Linked DNA regions of Homo sapiens: region 1 is linked to region 2. Evidence: fine-mapped expression QTL. Tissue or cell type: whole blood. Region 2 holds a variant in brackets; the other region holds the start of a gene. All regions are shown on one strand. Distances are between the middles of the regions.

Evidence for each region. PIP is the estimated chance that this variant, and not a neighbour inherited with it, causes the effect.
Region 1: it holds the start of RPS6KA3, and the variant in region 2 is fine-mapped to the expression of RPS6KA3 in whole blood (TOPMed, PIP above 0.99). The same link has a PIP of 0.9 or more in T cells and blood mononuclear cells.

Annotation. Positions count from the first base shown.
Region 1 is chrX:20,263,724-20,271,830 of GRCh38, reverse strand. RPS6KA3 (ribosomal protein S6 kinase A3) reads left to right here and starts at 4,922. Exons shown (of 22, transcript NM_004586.3): 1 at 4,922-5,267. The coding sequence starts at 5,199. RefSeq lists silencers at 4,146-4,440, 4,862-5,081, 5,202-5,461 and an enhancer at 6,642-6,691.
Region 2 is chrX:20,182,718-20,190,824 of GRCh38, reverse strand. RPS6KA3 (ribosomal protein S6 kinase A3) reads left to right here. Exons shown (of 22, transcript NM_004586.3): 8 at 2,291-2,328; 9 at 2,855-2,997; 10 at 4,459-4,529. Among named protein-coding and RNA genes, the nearest start is that of EIF1AX, 45 kb to the right of the region's middle. The variant C/A (reference allele first, on the strand shown) is at 4,482.

The DNA of each region.
Region 1 (8,107 bases), 81 kb before region 2:
GTTGCTCTACATTCTTTTATTTGCATTTCACAGGTTACTTACAGTATCATTTTTTGTGATACAAGAGTGCCCTAAAGAAATAGATCACACTACAATAAAATGCTCACACAGCAAATGGAACGAGGTAACTTTCAAGAGTGAGATATTTGAATTACATTATGTATGCAGGAGTACTCCCTTTCTGCAGCTGATAACAATACCTCCATTTATTGAATGTTTCCTATGTGGCAGGCACCATGCTTAATGCTTTACAGACATTACCTCCATTTAATCTTCCCACCAATCATACAAGGCAAGTATTATTATTCCTATTTTCAGATGAGAAAAACAAAGTTTATTCTGCAAATATTTGTTGAACAGCAACTACATGCCGGTCTAAGCAAAGCTGAAGCTAAGATAAAGAATCCTGAAGTTTGGACACAGGCCTGTCTCTGCTCTTATCATGACCCCATCCTGCCTAACTGGAAAGAATGTTAAACATTTCATGTATTTGTATTATAGATTGTCTTCACCTTTATAGATTTTACTGTCTTTCATCATATGCAACTCTAAAATCTTTGAACTTTGTATCTGGAAGGGAACCTAGAACCTTACATTTTCCAAAATTTGAATTTTCTCAAATAAAATGTTCAAATTGATGTAGAAATGCCTGTTCTTTAAGATCTGTGTCAATCAGGAAAATAGCCTTAATAATTTTTATTGGAGACATTTCAAGGAAAAAACAAAATTCACACACATGAAACATATGTAACCATGTATTTTGTTAAACTATTGTCTTATATGAGATAAGATTTGAGCCTAAATCTTACCTTTCTTTCTCTCTGAAAAGAAAGTTAAATAGTCTCTGGCTATTACCTTTCCTTTTTTTGTGAAAAAATAAATAGGCTTTGGATAAATATGAATCGAAATAAATATGCTTTGGATAATATAATTTGGATAATCCAGATGAAAGGAAAAAACTTTTTCCTAGAGGTGATGATGATTACACTTTTGGGATTTTCTACAGTAGTGACAAATCTATATGTACAGAGCTGTGAACTTTGGATGTATATGAGGTAGAGATTGTGCCATGAGCCATAGTTAGTCATCTTGCAACTTTTCCAGACTGATGTAACTCTATTTTTTGAACAAATGTTATTTTGTTAAATAAATGCCCATTTAAACTTGTATACAAAGGTTATAATTATAGCAGGAAATTGTTGGGGGCAGAGGAGGTTAAATCTAGTTGTCCCGTCATACATTAGGAATGATTTCTTGGAAACCTCCTTCAGATTTTCTACTGAGGTTTGCTGTTTCGCTCTACTGTAGTTTCAAGTAAGAACTTTCCAATATTTTGGTTCTGACTGGGAGATTTGTTGGGGAGGGTGGGGATCAGTAGGTAACTGAATCAGCCCTTTCTGCTGATTCTGCACTAAGGAAGCCAAAAAGACATTGGAATCTGAAGATATCACTTAACATTATATGACTTGTAGGAATACATAAAAGTCTCGAAAGCCACATATGTAAGTATACATTTATAGTAGCCACATTAAAAAGTTTTTAAAAGGTGAAATTAATTTTAATGAAATATTTTATTTAACCCAATATATCAAAAATATCATTTCAACATGTTGTGAATATAAAAAATTATTAATGAGATACTTTATATTCTTTTTTTTTTTTTTTTACTAAGTCTGAAATCTAGAAAGAACTTCACATTTACAGCACATCTCAACTTTGACCAGCCAACCTCATTTGAAGTGCTCAGTAGCCATGTGTGGCTACTAACCACCGTATTAACCCATGCAGGTCTGGCGATCTGAGGCAGCTATTCTTTGAACAGCTACACTTAGAGTTTTCCTTTGTTAAACAGAGGGGAAAAGTAATCCTGCTTAGGGCAATATCAGCTTCTATGTTCAAGTAACTCTTTTTGCTACCACCTTCAAGAAAAATCCTCCAGCCTCATTTGATTTTTCCAAATTCTCCTAACCAAAGAGAGTGGTTGCACTGCTCTTGGATTTAATAGAAGAAATAAAAGAGAAAAAGTTTATTGTTAACAACAAAAAATCATTTTCTTTGCTTTTGGGGCAAAAGGAAGAATAATGTTCTTCTAAATAAATTCAATCAATTCATAAATACTTATCAAATTGATCCTCTGTGCAAGACATCTGTGGTAGTGGTACTTTAACTGGTTTGTTTGTTTGTTTGTTTGTTTGTTTTTGAGACAGAATTTTGATCTTGTCGCCCAGGCTGGAGTGCAATGGCACGATCTCGGCTCACTGCAACCTCCGTCTCCCGGGTTCAAGCGATTCTCCTGCCTCAGTCTTCCGAGTAGCTGGCATTACGGGTGTGCACTCCCGGCTAATTTTGTATTTTTAGTAGAGACCGGGTTTCACCATGTCGGCCAGGCTAGTCTGGAACTCCTGAGCTCAGGTAATCCGCCCACCTGGGCCTCCCAAAGTGCTGGGATTACAGGGGTGAGCCACCGCACCCGGCCACTTTAACCCATTATTAACAGTTCATGTAATGCTTAATTCACTGAAACGTGACCACCGCTCACATTACTTTTACAGATCAGGTAACTCTGTTTTAAAAGTTATTCCTCTGGTTCTCAAGGTTAACAGAGATGAATAAAAGTTGATACTGAAAATGGCATACAATTTGCTTTATTTTAAAATATTCATTCTTTGCGTGGGGGTAATTAGCACTGAACAGTGTTAGCCACATAACGGTCTCTCTTCAACTATGTATGTTTTTACTAATGCAAGAATGTTAACTGAAATAATTGATCAAAGGGTAGGGGGAGCTAATTTACTTTAAGCCAACCGAATTAACGAACTTCTTTTCGCTATAAGGAGTGGTCATGTGACTCTGCAATGTAAATGAATAAAGCATTTTGTACATAAATGCAAAATAGTACACAACTCCTTATCCTCCAAACTTCTGCAAGCACGTTTTACCGTCGGGAATTACACAGAGAAGGTGCTGCCAAATTAGCTGAGTTTGGGCCCAGGTTGGATTTGCAACACCTGAATATAGCATGTGAAGGGAAGTGACAAAGGCAAGAGCCAAGTGGCCCCATTCGCCTTCTTCCCCAGACCACGTTGAGTCTGCCCAGATGTTGTCCAACCTGAGCGGTCCCCCTGAGTCCAAAGCTTCGGGAGAAGGCGCGCAACGAGGACTTCCTGCCGCCTTCTCAGGCTCCCTAAACAGTTGGAGCCTCCCTAAATGGCCACGAGGTTCCCCGGCCTCGAGCCTGTGCCAAGGGGCGCGCTGGCGAAGGCAGCAGAAAGAGCCCAACACCTGCCTCTCGCAGGCCCAGCGAGAAACCTCGCACCGCCCGCGCAGACCTGGCCGGCTGGGTTTGGGGCTCTAATCTCATCCTCACACCTGCTTAGGGAGGCAGGCGAGGGTTCTCCAGGTGTCTGGGTCCCGGGAGGATGAAAGGAAGCTGTTAATAGGCGTGCGCTGGGAGCGCAGCAGCGGACGCGCCGTGGTCGCTGGGCGTGGGAAGACCGGGATGCCTGGGCCACGGCCTGAGGGTTTGAAGGGACAGGCCGGCTCGGAGATCTCCCTTTGCTTTTTCTCTTCCCCTCGCTGGGCGACTAGCCAGGGGCTGCAGTAGCTTTCCACTCAGCCCTGCGACTTTTACACATTTCTGCCCGGGCGCACTTAGCGCGCAGCGGCTCCTGGCGCAGTGAACACAGGGTCGAGTCCTCTTGGGACGCACCCCGGACGCCCAGGCCTTCCCCCCAAAGCTCTCGCCGTCCTGTGGGGCTCCGTCGCCGTCGGGGCATTGGGTTTCCTTAATCCAGGGCTTCCCCATCTTGGGCAGGAGGAGGAGTCAGAACCCCTCCCCTCCCTCTGTCCCCCTCCTCCTCCTCCTCCGCCCACGGCCAGCCTGATTTTTAAATCTAATCTCTTATTTAAAGTCAACAGAGGAGCAGGAACCCCGCGCTCCTGCCTACAAGATATTTTTAAATAATTCTCCAACCTCTACCGAGAGGGACAGCCTTAAGGAACCTCCCTGTTTTCCCCTCTTGAAGATTTAGGTAGCAGACGTGGGGCGGGGGGCAGCGGTTCCAGGGTCGCAGCTGAAGGCCGAGAGCTCTGCGCACTTGGGGAGGAGAATTTGGGCTGGGGGCGGTGCGGGGGAAGCGACTAATACAAGAGGAATTAATCCCAAATAGCCACAATTTAACAAAAGAGCGTCAACTTGAAAAGACTTGAATCAAACCGGGAGCCGAGCCCCCAGGAGGCTCCTAGGCACGAAGCCTCCCTTGCCTCCGTCGGGGGAGATGGGGGGCAGGTGATTTCCCAGCATGTGACCCTGAAGAGGGAGGGTCTTGGGCCATTACGGGATGCGCCCAGAGACTAGGCGCGTCCGCACGCACGCACCCCCGGAGGAGACAAGCCGAAAAGACACTCCGCACCCCTCCCCGGGTCCTTGGCTCGGGACTGCGCCCCCGGTACTTTGCCCACCTCCCTCCCCAGCTGGGCGGGGACCACTGTTCTCCCTCATTCCCAAGGAGCCTCCGACCTCCTTGGACCCTTGGCGGTGAAAGGCTCCCAGCCTTCGCCCCTCCTGCCTTTCCCATTTCTTTCCCCCGCCTCCCGCCGACGCCCCCAGATCTGTTGGGCTCGCCCTTCCTGAAAGTAGGCGAGGCCCAGAAGCTGAGGTTGGGGCGCAGAAGGAGGGGGGTGGGAAGAGGGAGGAGCGGAGCGCAGCGGCCGGGGGCGTGTCTTCCACTAGCCCAGCCCCTGGGTGCGCGCGGCGGTGGTGGCGGCGGCCGAGCCTCGCTTTGAGAGACAGGTATCGCTTAGGCGCCATGTTGTGAGCGGAAGTGGGGGAGCGCGCGGCGGTCGCTGTTCTGCTGGGAGCGGGCGCGGGAACCGGCGGGGGGGGCGGAGCCGTAGTCCCGGCGGCGGAAGGAGGAGAGGAAGAAAGGGGCGAGACCCGGTGCCCAGCGGAGGCGCGAGGCTCTCGCTCAGCGCGCGGGCGTCTCTGGCCAGGCGCGCGGCTTTCGGGCGGTCGGCGTCGGCGTCGAGCCCTCTCTGGGGCCGCCGCCGCTGCTGCTGCTGCTGCCGCTGCCGCTGCCGCTGCCGCCGCCGCCGCCGCCGCCGCCGCTGCCGTGGGGCTCGGGCGGCGACGGAGCGGGGCCGGCCGTGGGGCGGGCGGGGAGGGAGGAGGCGGTGAAGGCGGCGGGCCGGGGGGGAAGATGCCGCTGGCGCAGCTGGCGGACCCGTGGCAGAAGATGGCTGTGGAGAGCCCGTCCGACAGCGCTGAGGTGAGTGCAGCAGGGCGGCCGGGGCCGGCGCATCTCCTCCTCGCGCCCCCGCCGGCTCGCTTCGCTCCCCGGAGCTGGCCACTCGGCCCGTTCTGATCCCGCTCGCGTCTTTCCCCCGGGCTCAGGGTTTTGGTTTGGGTTGTTGGGGTGGGTCTATTGGCCGGTCTGTCTGTTCCTTCCATCCTCACCCTCACCTCCTTCCCTCGCTCGGGGGGCTGCCAGTGTGGTGGCGCGTGGGGTTTGGAGTGGGCGCTGGGGCTTTGCAAGAAGCCAATTTTAATCAACTTTGCGTGGGGGAAGCGGGAGGCGGAGCGGGGGCCGGCGGGGAGTTGGGAAGTTTGGCCCAGCCGGGTCGGGGGCTTTCCCGGACCTTGGCGACTTTGGGAGATGAGGGAGGGGTAGGGATCGGGTTCACCGGGGAGCAGGGACTCTCGAGTCCAGCCGAGGGAGGGGCTGCTGCGGGGAGACCGGCGCGCGGGGCACGGGCGGCGGCGACCTGTGGGGGTTTCGGGTAGGGGGTGCAGGGTTTTGCCTCCCCCTCGTCTGCCGCAGCGGTTTCTGCTGCTGCAAAGAAGAAAGCGGAAGCCTAAGGTCCCCTACCCCCTCCGTTTCTGAGGTCGCAGAGCTAGACCCCCGTCCCTGTGAGTTTAACTTGAGTTTCCTGTCCATGGAGGTGAGAGGGTGATATTCAAGGAGATCAGCGGCCGCCGTAAAAGGCTTTCTGGTTTTCCTCGCCCGGGATCTGGTGACCGTCCCTGAGTCACCCATCCTAGTGCCCAAAACCCAAACAATATACCCAAACAGGGCAAAACAGAATTTCCCCGGGCGCATCACTACACCGAGCTTTCCTGAACCGCCCCTATCCCAGAACAACTCGGGGTCTGCGAAAATAATCCAGACAAGACCCGTTCCAAGGTATCACCGCTCCTCTCCGGAGTGGAAAATCAATTCCTGATGGTGGCGCGTCTGTGATTCTTCCTTCTTGACTTTTTGCTGCCTTCTCTCCCCGCAGCGGACTTTAGGGGATTACAGGATGATAGGCTGCGTGTGTGTAATAGTTACTGAGTGAGTGACCCCATTTCTGGAAAGCATGACTGAAACGCGGGGGTGGAACGGGGCAGGCTCTGATGAGTGGTGTGCTTGGCGGCAGCCGCTGCCCTGCCGGCCTCCGCAGTGTGAGAAGTAGATAGGGTTACTGGTTACGTCAGTAAAACCGAGGCTCAGTTTAATCTTGAGATGCGGGACACTTGCATTCTCCGGTATAATGGAGAGGGCGGGGGATCAGTTCAAATCGCTTTTCACTTTTTCCCCCAGTCACCTCCGCTGCTGTATAACAATTTTGCTTGTTCTCCTTAACGCACGCAGAGTTGTAATAGTGCTTATGATTGGTGCTTAGTATTTTGCGACTTGGATCATACTTGTAAAACCTGAACTAAATGCTGCTCTTCAATGGAAAAGACATTGATATATGTTGAAAGAAAAGGAAAGAAAGAAAGGAAATCATGTTTTTAAGACTGGCAGAATCACAAGAACTTTATTTAAAATTGTTAACCAGACTAATACTATAAATATTTTATTAAAAAGCCAAATTTATGATGTTTAATAATCCTTTAGATGGGTAGTGTGAAAAACAGTATGCAAGAGCTCGTCATATTTTTCCCCAGAAAATTTTTTGCATTAAATAATATAGCTAAAAGGTTAATAAAATGTTCGCAAAGTACTGAACTTGTGGAAAGAAATTAAATTTGCTTTGAGCCTGACTTTTACATACAAACATTAACAATTGCAACTCAAGATCAGTCCACATTTCTGCTTGGCATGTATCAGTGTGATAGGAAAACAATATCGTTTAGAATTCCACCTTATCCTTTTTCTATCTGGAATGCATTTGGATAAGGAAGGACAAAACATATTTATTTAGCACCAACTGTATGCCAGGTACTGTGCTACATTACTATTTCATTTTATCCTTCCTGTGACCCAGCAGGGTAGGATTATGGTCCCCATTGTTATAGATTAGGAAACCAAATCTCAGAATTTAAAAGGTACAAAGATGATAAATAGTAAATGGCAGAGCCATAATTCAAAGCCAGGTGGATACAATTCATGTGCTTCGTTTTATATCAGGGTAGCTGTTCCAAATCTTTTGTGGAAAAATTCGGGGTATAAATAAGCCAGTAGTTAGAGGTCATCTATTTTCCAGAAACAAATAGAGTATTATAAGAGGTCTCATTTGGTAAAGCCTTGTTATTTCAGTTACTATCATGTTTTCCAGAACTTGACAGATAGGATTCCACAATTTGCTGTTTTCAAAGAATTTTCTTGCTATCCTGGCATAAAGTATGTCAAACAGAGCCAGTGTTGCCAAGATTTATTAAAATTAAATTCTAACAAATTGCCTTTAGATATTTAATTTCCTTTGCTTGTTCAGCTATTTCAAGTAAATTACTTCTGATACAATTTGGAAATATTGAAGACAGTGAGGGAAAGGTTGAAAAGTTCCACTCAGAGGTCTAATATTTTCACTATTATACCGTTTCCTCCCCCAGTAGGTTCCTATCAGATAATTGTATTTTACCAGAGTAACATAGTTTTTTTTAGAGTCATTTACTTGAGTGAATACATCAAAATATTTCTCTCCAGGTTAAAAGATTTCAGGATTGGTCTGTGTAGGAGTTTACATTTATGGTCTCATCCCTAGTACACTGTGAATTCTTGAAAGCAGACATTTTTCCCCCCCTCTCTGAATCCTCAGCATTCAGCACAATGCCTGGCCCTGACATATTGTGGACTTAATAAATATCTGCTGAATGAATCATGAAAGTCAGGAATAGGATGAT
Region 2 (8,107 bases):
ATGCTCATCTGGAACTCTTCTAAGTGATCATTTAGAAATTGTTATGCTTTTATATTTTATGTTTTTTTTATTGTTTTTGGATAAGTTTCATATGGTTTTGTTTTTATTCCCCAAATAACTGCTGAGTTTTCCTGATTATTTTCCCAACTTATAACTATTGTGACACAAAATATAATTATTGGTGAGAATGAATATTCAAGCATATAGTCCTTAGAAAAATTACTATAAACATAAGATTAAACATTCATAAAAATGTGTGTTTTATACTATTTAATTGAATATATTTACCATAGACCATTGTATTGGCATTGGTCATAAAGTTACATTAAAGTATGAGCCCTGTCTCAAGGCTTTAATAAGATCAGATGTAAATAAGATTGCTTATATTAAGATCTTAAACATACATGTCTAGATGATGCTATTAATTAGAAATAACACTTACTTGGTGAATTATACAAGTAAATACCATCATACAGAACTTGGGAGAAATTTAAATTTTTAGGCCAAATATTTTATGAACTGTTAAGGGTTTTTCAGATTCTTTTAAACTAGAACTCTGTTGTAATAAATATGACTAAAAATTAGTAACCATTGAAAAGGAATGTTGTTTATTGAGAGTGATACAGTTGACTTTTTCTTTCAAAGATACAGTATAAGCATGGTTATCTTAGAAGAATGCATTTGCTACAGAAGGCGTAACTAATGCCCTTTCAGCCATATTATCCTTTTTTCTTTCAGAATTACCGAGAATGACTTGAAGTTTTGTTTTTAGAACTGTTTTTCATGTATTCACTAGAAGGGAGGATGATTTCTACAGTACCTAATAATGCCCTTTATACTCTCTAAATGTGTTGATCTCTTCATAATCAAGCAGAATCAATATTAATATTTTTCATAACAGGTGCTTATGATAAAAGAAACTTGAAAAACATGTCCCTACTGAATTACCTTCAGTGGTAAACTTTGTTGTAATTATGTTTGCATTTATGAAATAGAAAGATTGGTAATATTTTTGTTATAGTAAAATTTTATAACAAAGTTTGACTTGCACATTTTTAGTTAAAATAAAAGTAAGGAAATGCCTATATTGTGGGATAGCTTTAAATATAAGTGAAACAGTTTATTGCTTGATCCCATACCTATCCAGAAATATTAGGTTGGTGCAAAAGCAATTGCAGTTTTTGCCATTACTTTTAATTACTTCTGCACCAACTTAACACAATTATTGGCTTACAGCTTAGTACTCTCTCCTTTCTGTAGCTCCTTGATTAATAGCATTACTCTCCACTCAAGTATCTGCTCAAGCCAGAAACCTGAGTGTCATTCTCCAGTTGTTCTTTATCATGACCCAGTGAGCTCACTAAATGCCCTTTATTTTCTCTGTAAATTTCTCTACCCTCCATGAATGTACACCATTTATGGTCTCCCTTGTCCTTGACAAGAAGCCCAAACTATTTGGAATGCCCTGTAGGCCCTTTGCAAACAGGCCTTATTCATTCAACATTTCTTGTTTGTACTGTACACTGCCAGACACTGAGCTATAAAGATGAATAAGGTCAAACCTTCTAGGAGCTCACAGTTTATTGGGGAAGAGAGAAAACCCTGGAGAATATGTATAGTGAAGGGAGGGGTCAATGAAAAACAAGGAGTATGGGGAAGGAGAAGAGGATTGTGTAGGTTGTGTCAGGAAAAAAAAAATAAGGAAACAATGATTGAGTCAGATACCTTTAAAATGACCAAGAGAGCTGGGCACGCAGTGGCTCACACCTTAGGGAGTAATCCCAGCACTCAGGGAGGCAGAAGCAAGAAGATAGCTTGAGCCCAGCAGTTCAAGACCTGCCTGGGCAACATAGTGATACCCTATTCTCCACAAAAAGGAAAAAAAGGCAAAATAAAATAACCAAGAGAATGACATGTCTGATGTTTTTGAATTAAATGTGTGGACCCTCTGTCTATTAATGCAGGCACTAGGGGGTTTAGTCAAACTACGTCTGCAGAAAGGCATTAGAAAGAGCAGCTGGGAAGAGTACAGGTGATTTGATTCTTTTCCTAATAATTTTCAAGTGCCCCTGGCATATTAATACAAGTTTATGGCATTGCCTTTGGGCTTTGTTATAAATGTGTGTCCAAAAAATAATTTGTTCCTCCTTTGCCTTTGCCATCTTATTCACAGTCTAAAGCAATGTTTTAGAGTAAATGTGGTGATCTGATGCTTAAGGATGTAATTTCAGTCTTAGCTTCTATAAATCTCTATTTAGTGTTCTTAAAAGATTTTCTTTGTTTTTTTCAGTATACTTCTTGATGAAGAAGGTCACATCAAGTTAACAGGTAAAAAAAAAATCCTCGTTTTATTAAAATATTTTCTCCTACAATATATACTTTCCTTTAAGGTTGATTGTGGTACAAATATTGAGTAATACACTGTATTAAAATTAAAAACTTGTATTAGGGCCAGGCGTAGTGGCTCACCCCTGTAATCCCAGCATTCTGGGAGGCTGAGGCAGGTGGATCACTTGAGGTCGGGAATTCAAGACTAGCCTGGCTAACATGGTGAAACCCTGTTTCTACTTAAAATACAAAAAAATGAGCTGGGCATGGTGGTGCACGCCTGTAATCCCAGTTACTTGGGAGGCTGAGGCAGGAGAATCACTTGAACCCGGGAGGCAGAGGATACAGTGAGCCAAGATGGCGTCACTGTACTCCAGCCTGGGTGACAGAGCGAGACTCTGTCTCAAAAAACAAACAAACAAAAAAAACTTGTATTAGAAATTTTAAATGATTAATGTCAGAACTCAAAGTTTAAAATTTACATGTGCAAATTTATGTAGGATATTTATGATATTTGTTTTGGCAGATTTCGGCCTAAGTAAAGAGTCTATTGACCATGAAAAGAAGGCATATTCTTTTTGTGGAACTGTGGAGTATATGGCTCCAGAAGTAGTTAATCGTCGAGGTCATACTCAGAGTGCTGACTGGTGGTCTTTTGGTGTGTTAATGGTAAGGTTTGAATTTGGGATTTTTTAGAGGGGAAGGAGATTGTTAAGTGAGGATCAGCAGTGAATGTTAAAGAAACTGGTGTTTTTATTTTCTTTATTTTATGCCATATGTAATAAATAACCAAGAAACATTATTGCATGCAGTATAGAAGGACTATGAAATCTGTTAGCTGCGTCTATCTCATCCTAATTTGAAAGGGCAAAAAAAAATATTACCATAGATTTCCTGCTAATAGTAACAATCTAAAGCATTAATGGTGTTTGGTCTTTTGGAGAAACTGGTCCAGAAATCTGTTAGTAAGTGACCCTTAAAATAAGTTCGTTTGGCCGAGTGCAGTGGCTCACACCTGTAATCCTAGCACTTTGGGAGGCTGAGGCGGGTAGATCACCTGACGTCAGGAGTTCAAGACCGGCATGGCCAACATGGCAAAACCCCATCTCCACTAAAAATACAAAAAGTAGCTGAGCAGGATGGCACACACCTCAGGAGGCTGAGGCTGGAGAATCGCTAGAACCTGGGAGGCAGAGGTTGCAGTGAGCCAAGATCATGCCATTGCACTCCAGCCTGGGCAACAGAGCGAGACTCTGTCTCAAAAAATATATAGTAAGTTCTGCCGGGCGCGGTGGCTCACGCCTGTAATCCCAGCACTTTGGGAGGCCGAGGCAGGTGGATCACTTAAAGTCAGGAGTTCGAAACCAGCCTGGCCAACATGGTGAAACCCCGTTTCTACTAAAAATACAAAAATCAGGCTGGGCGTGGTGGCTCATGCCTGTAAGACCAGCCTGGACAACATGGTGAAACCCTGTCTCTACTACAACTACAAAAAATTAGCCAGGCATGGTGGCACACACCTGTAATCCCAGCTACTTGGGAGGCTAAGGCAGGAGAATCACTTGAACCCAGGAGACGGAGATTGCAGTGAGTGAAGATCGTGCCACTGCACTCCAGCCTGGGTGACAGAGTAAGACTCCGTCTCAAAAAAAATAAATAAGTTCATATGAAATTGGCATATCTATCAAATTGTTCACATATCTACACTTTAAAATTGCCATTTGAAATGTGATTGATGAAGCTGAGCATGGTGGCCCATGCCTCTAATCCCAGCACTTTGAGAGGCTGAGGTGGGAGAATTGCTTGAGCCCAGGAGATGGAAGCTTCAGTGAGCTGAGATTGCACCACTGGGCTCCAGCCTGGGCAACAGAGCCAGGCCCTGTCTCAAAAAAAAAATAAAATAAAAATGTGATTGATTTCTACAAAAAAAAAAAAACTGTATAGCTCAGTTGTTTTAGGAATTATCAAGAACTTCAGTAACGAATATGGTAGAAATAGAAAACACTTGTTATGTAGCAATTTTAGAATATTTGGTTATAATTAAAATGATGCTTTTTTTTTTTTTTACCTTCTGGCCTTCAGATTTTATATTTATTGACTAACACTTCTGATTATTTTGCCTTTCTGTAGTTTGAAATGCTTACTGGTACACT[C/A]CCTTTCCAAGGAAAAGATCGAAAAGAAACAATGACTATGATTCTTAAGTAAGTACTCCCTTAATATAGATGTTTTGATGAGATTTTAAAATAAATGCTTCAGGCTGGGCGCTGTGGCTCATGCCTGTAATCCCAGCACTTTGGGAGGGCAAGGAAGACGGATCACTTGAGATCAGGAGTTTGAGACCAGCCTGGCCAACATGGTGAAACCCCATCTCTACTAAAAATACAAAACTTAGCCGGGCATGGTGGTACACACCTGTAGTCTCAGCAGTACTCAGGAGGCTGAGGTGGGAGAATCCCTTGAACCCGGGAGGTGGAGGTTGCAGTGAGCTGATATCACACCACTGCACTCCATCCTGGGCAACAGAGCGAGACTCTATCTCAAAAAAGTAAAATAAAATAAATGTTTCACACTAAAAAATGAGATTTTAGAGTGTTGGCTGTAGTATAAGAAATAACTAAGAAATTCATCAATATTACGTGGTTTGAATATGAACAGACTGCGTAGATTTAGAGTACTCATATTATCTTCATGTTAATAGTGAAATACTGAAAGCTTTACTTTTGGGATTTGTAATATGGCAAGGATGCCCATTATTTCACTTCTGTCCACATTGTCCTGGAAGTCCTAGCCAATATGGTAAGTCAAGCAAAAAAGTAAAGTATAAGGTTTAAAAAGAAGAAATAAAATTATCATTATTTAGATAACATGACTGTATCCATAGAAGATCCAGTCATCAGCCTGCACAACATAGCAAAACCCCATCTCTACAAAAAAATGCAAAAATTAGCCAGGCATGTTGGTAAGCACCTGTAGTCCCAGCTACTTTGTGGGGTGGCAGATGGGGGCTAAGACAGGAGAATCATTTGAGCCCAGGAGCTTGAGGCTACAGTGAGCTGAGATGGTTCTACTGCACCCCAGCCTGGGTGACAGAGCAAAACCCTGTCTCAAAAAAGAAAAGAAAAGAAAAGAAAATCCAGTGATCATATAAATTCTTAGAATTAATAAGAGTTTAGCAAAGTTACTGGATACAAGGTCAATAAACAAAAATCTATTCCATGTCTCTATACTAGGAATAGAAAATGGAATTTTTATCCGGGCACAGTGGCTCACACCTGTAATCCCAGCACTTTGGCAGGCCGAGGCAGGCAGATCACCTGAGGTCCAGAGTTCGAGACCAGCCTGGCCAACATGGCGAAACCCTGTCTCTACTAAAAATAGAAAAAATTATTCGGGCATGGTAGCAGGTGCCTGTAATCCCAACTACTCGGTAGGCTGAGGCAGGAGAATCACTTGAACCCGGGAGGCAGAGGTTGCAGTGCGCCAAGATCATGCCACTGCACTCCAGCCTGGGCAATAAGAGTGAAATTTCATCTCAAAAAAAAAATGGAATTTTCAAAGAGGACAGTGTTTACAACAATGTAAAAATTCTCAGATACCTAGTGATAAATCTAGCAGAAGTTGTGTAAGACCTCTGTGCAAAAAAACCAGAAAATTTTATTTAAAGAAATTTTAAAAGACCAAAATAACTTGAAAGAATATACCATGTTCATGTTATGACAGACCCAGTGTTGTAAAGATAACATTTTTATAGATCAGTGTTATCCACTAGAAATATAATGTGAACCAGCCAGGCATGGTGGCTCATGCCTATAATCCCACCACTTTGGGAGGCCGAAGTGGGCAGATTGCTTGAGCCCAGGAGTTTGAGACCAGCTTGGGCAACATGGCAAAACCCCATCTCTACAAAAATAAAAGATAAAAAAATTAGCCAGATGTGGTGGCACGTGCCAGTAGTCCCAGCCACTTGGGAGGCTGAGGTGAGAGGATCACTTGAGCCTGGGAGGTCAAGACTGCAGTGAGCCCTGATCACACCACTACACTCCAACCTGAGCAACAGAGTGAAGAGCGAGACCCTGTCTCAAAAAAAAAAAAAAAAAAAGAAAAGTAATGCGAACCACATACGTAATTTTAAGTTTTCTAGTACCTACATTTAAAAAAGTAAAAAGAGGCAGGTAATCCCAGCACTTTGGGAGGCCAAAGCGGGTGGATCACCTGAGGTCAGGAGTTCGAGACCAGCCTGGCCAACATGGCAAAACCCTGTCTCTACTAAAAATACAAAAATTAGCTGGGCGTGGTGGCACACACCTGTAATCCCAGCTACTTGGGAAGCTGAGGCAGGAGAATCACTTGAACCCGGGAGGCGGAGGTTGCAGTGAGCTAAGATCATGCCGCTGCACTCCAGCCTGGGTGATGAATGAAATTCATCTCAAAAAATAAAAAAAATAAAAAAGTAAAAGGAAAGTTAATTGTAATATTTTATTTAACCCAGTGTACCCAAGATGTTATTTCAGCATGTAACCAATGTTAAAAATTGATTGAGGTATTTGTTGTAAACTAATTTTTTTCATACTCATTTGAAATTCAATGTGTATTTTACACTTACAATGTGGATTGGCACATTTCAGGTGCTCAGTAGCCATATGTAGCTAGTGGCTACTATAATGGATGACAAAACTATAGTTTCAATGCAAATAAAATTAAAATCCTAACAACTTTTTAATGTGAATCTTGATAAACTGATTCTAATATGATAATACAAAGGACAAAGAGTAGCTAAAATACTCTCGAAGACCAAGATAGGAAGACTTGCTTTACCAGGTATTAAGTCTTATTATAACAGTAACTAAGATAATACAGCATTGAAACAAGTGTGGAAAGTAGATCTATGCAAAAGAATAAAGAACCCAGAAACAGATCTATATATGTGGACACTTAATTTGCGACCATTGGGAATTTCAGAGCAGTAGGGAAAGAATAGCCTTTTCTTAATAAATCATGCTGGAAAAGTTAAATATTCGTATAAAAAATAGGCAGGGAGTGGTGGCTCACACCTGTAATCCAAACACTTTGGGAGGCTGAGGTGGGAGGATCACTTGAGGCCATGAGTTAAAGAATATAAAAATTATCCAGGTGTGGTAGTGCACACCTGTAGTCCTAGCTACTTGGGAGGCTGAGGTGGGAGAATCGCTTGAGCCCAGGAGGTCAAGGATGCAGTGAGCCATGATCATGCCACTGCACTCCAGCCTGGGTAATAGAGCAAGATCGTGTCTCAAAAAAAATTTGCTTTAAAAGAATTAAAAATTTTTTTTAAAATTCCTACCTTCCACCATACATAAAAATCATTACCAATCTATCTAGAACCCCAATCAATAAGAAAAAGCCAACCCAATAAAAACATGGGCAAGAGACTTAGGGATCTGACAGAAGAGGATATTCAATGGCCAAAAAACTTATGAAAAGATACTCAACCTCGTTAATCAGAAAATGCAAATTAAAATCACAAGGAAATATCACTGCATACTCACCAGAATGGCTAAAATTAAAAAGATTGACAGGAGCATTCTGAACCATTTTTGGCCCAGACTGCTGCCCTATACAAAAATTTTAATAAATAAAAATAAAAAGACTGACAGTACAAAATGGTGGGATGTGAAGCAGTGGCAACTTTTATACATAGCTGGAAGGAATATCAATACTCATATAACCACTTTGGAAAGCAGTTTTTGTCCTTATCTTCTAAAGACAAATATATGTATACCCTCATCCAGTAATTCCCACT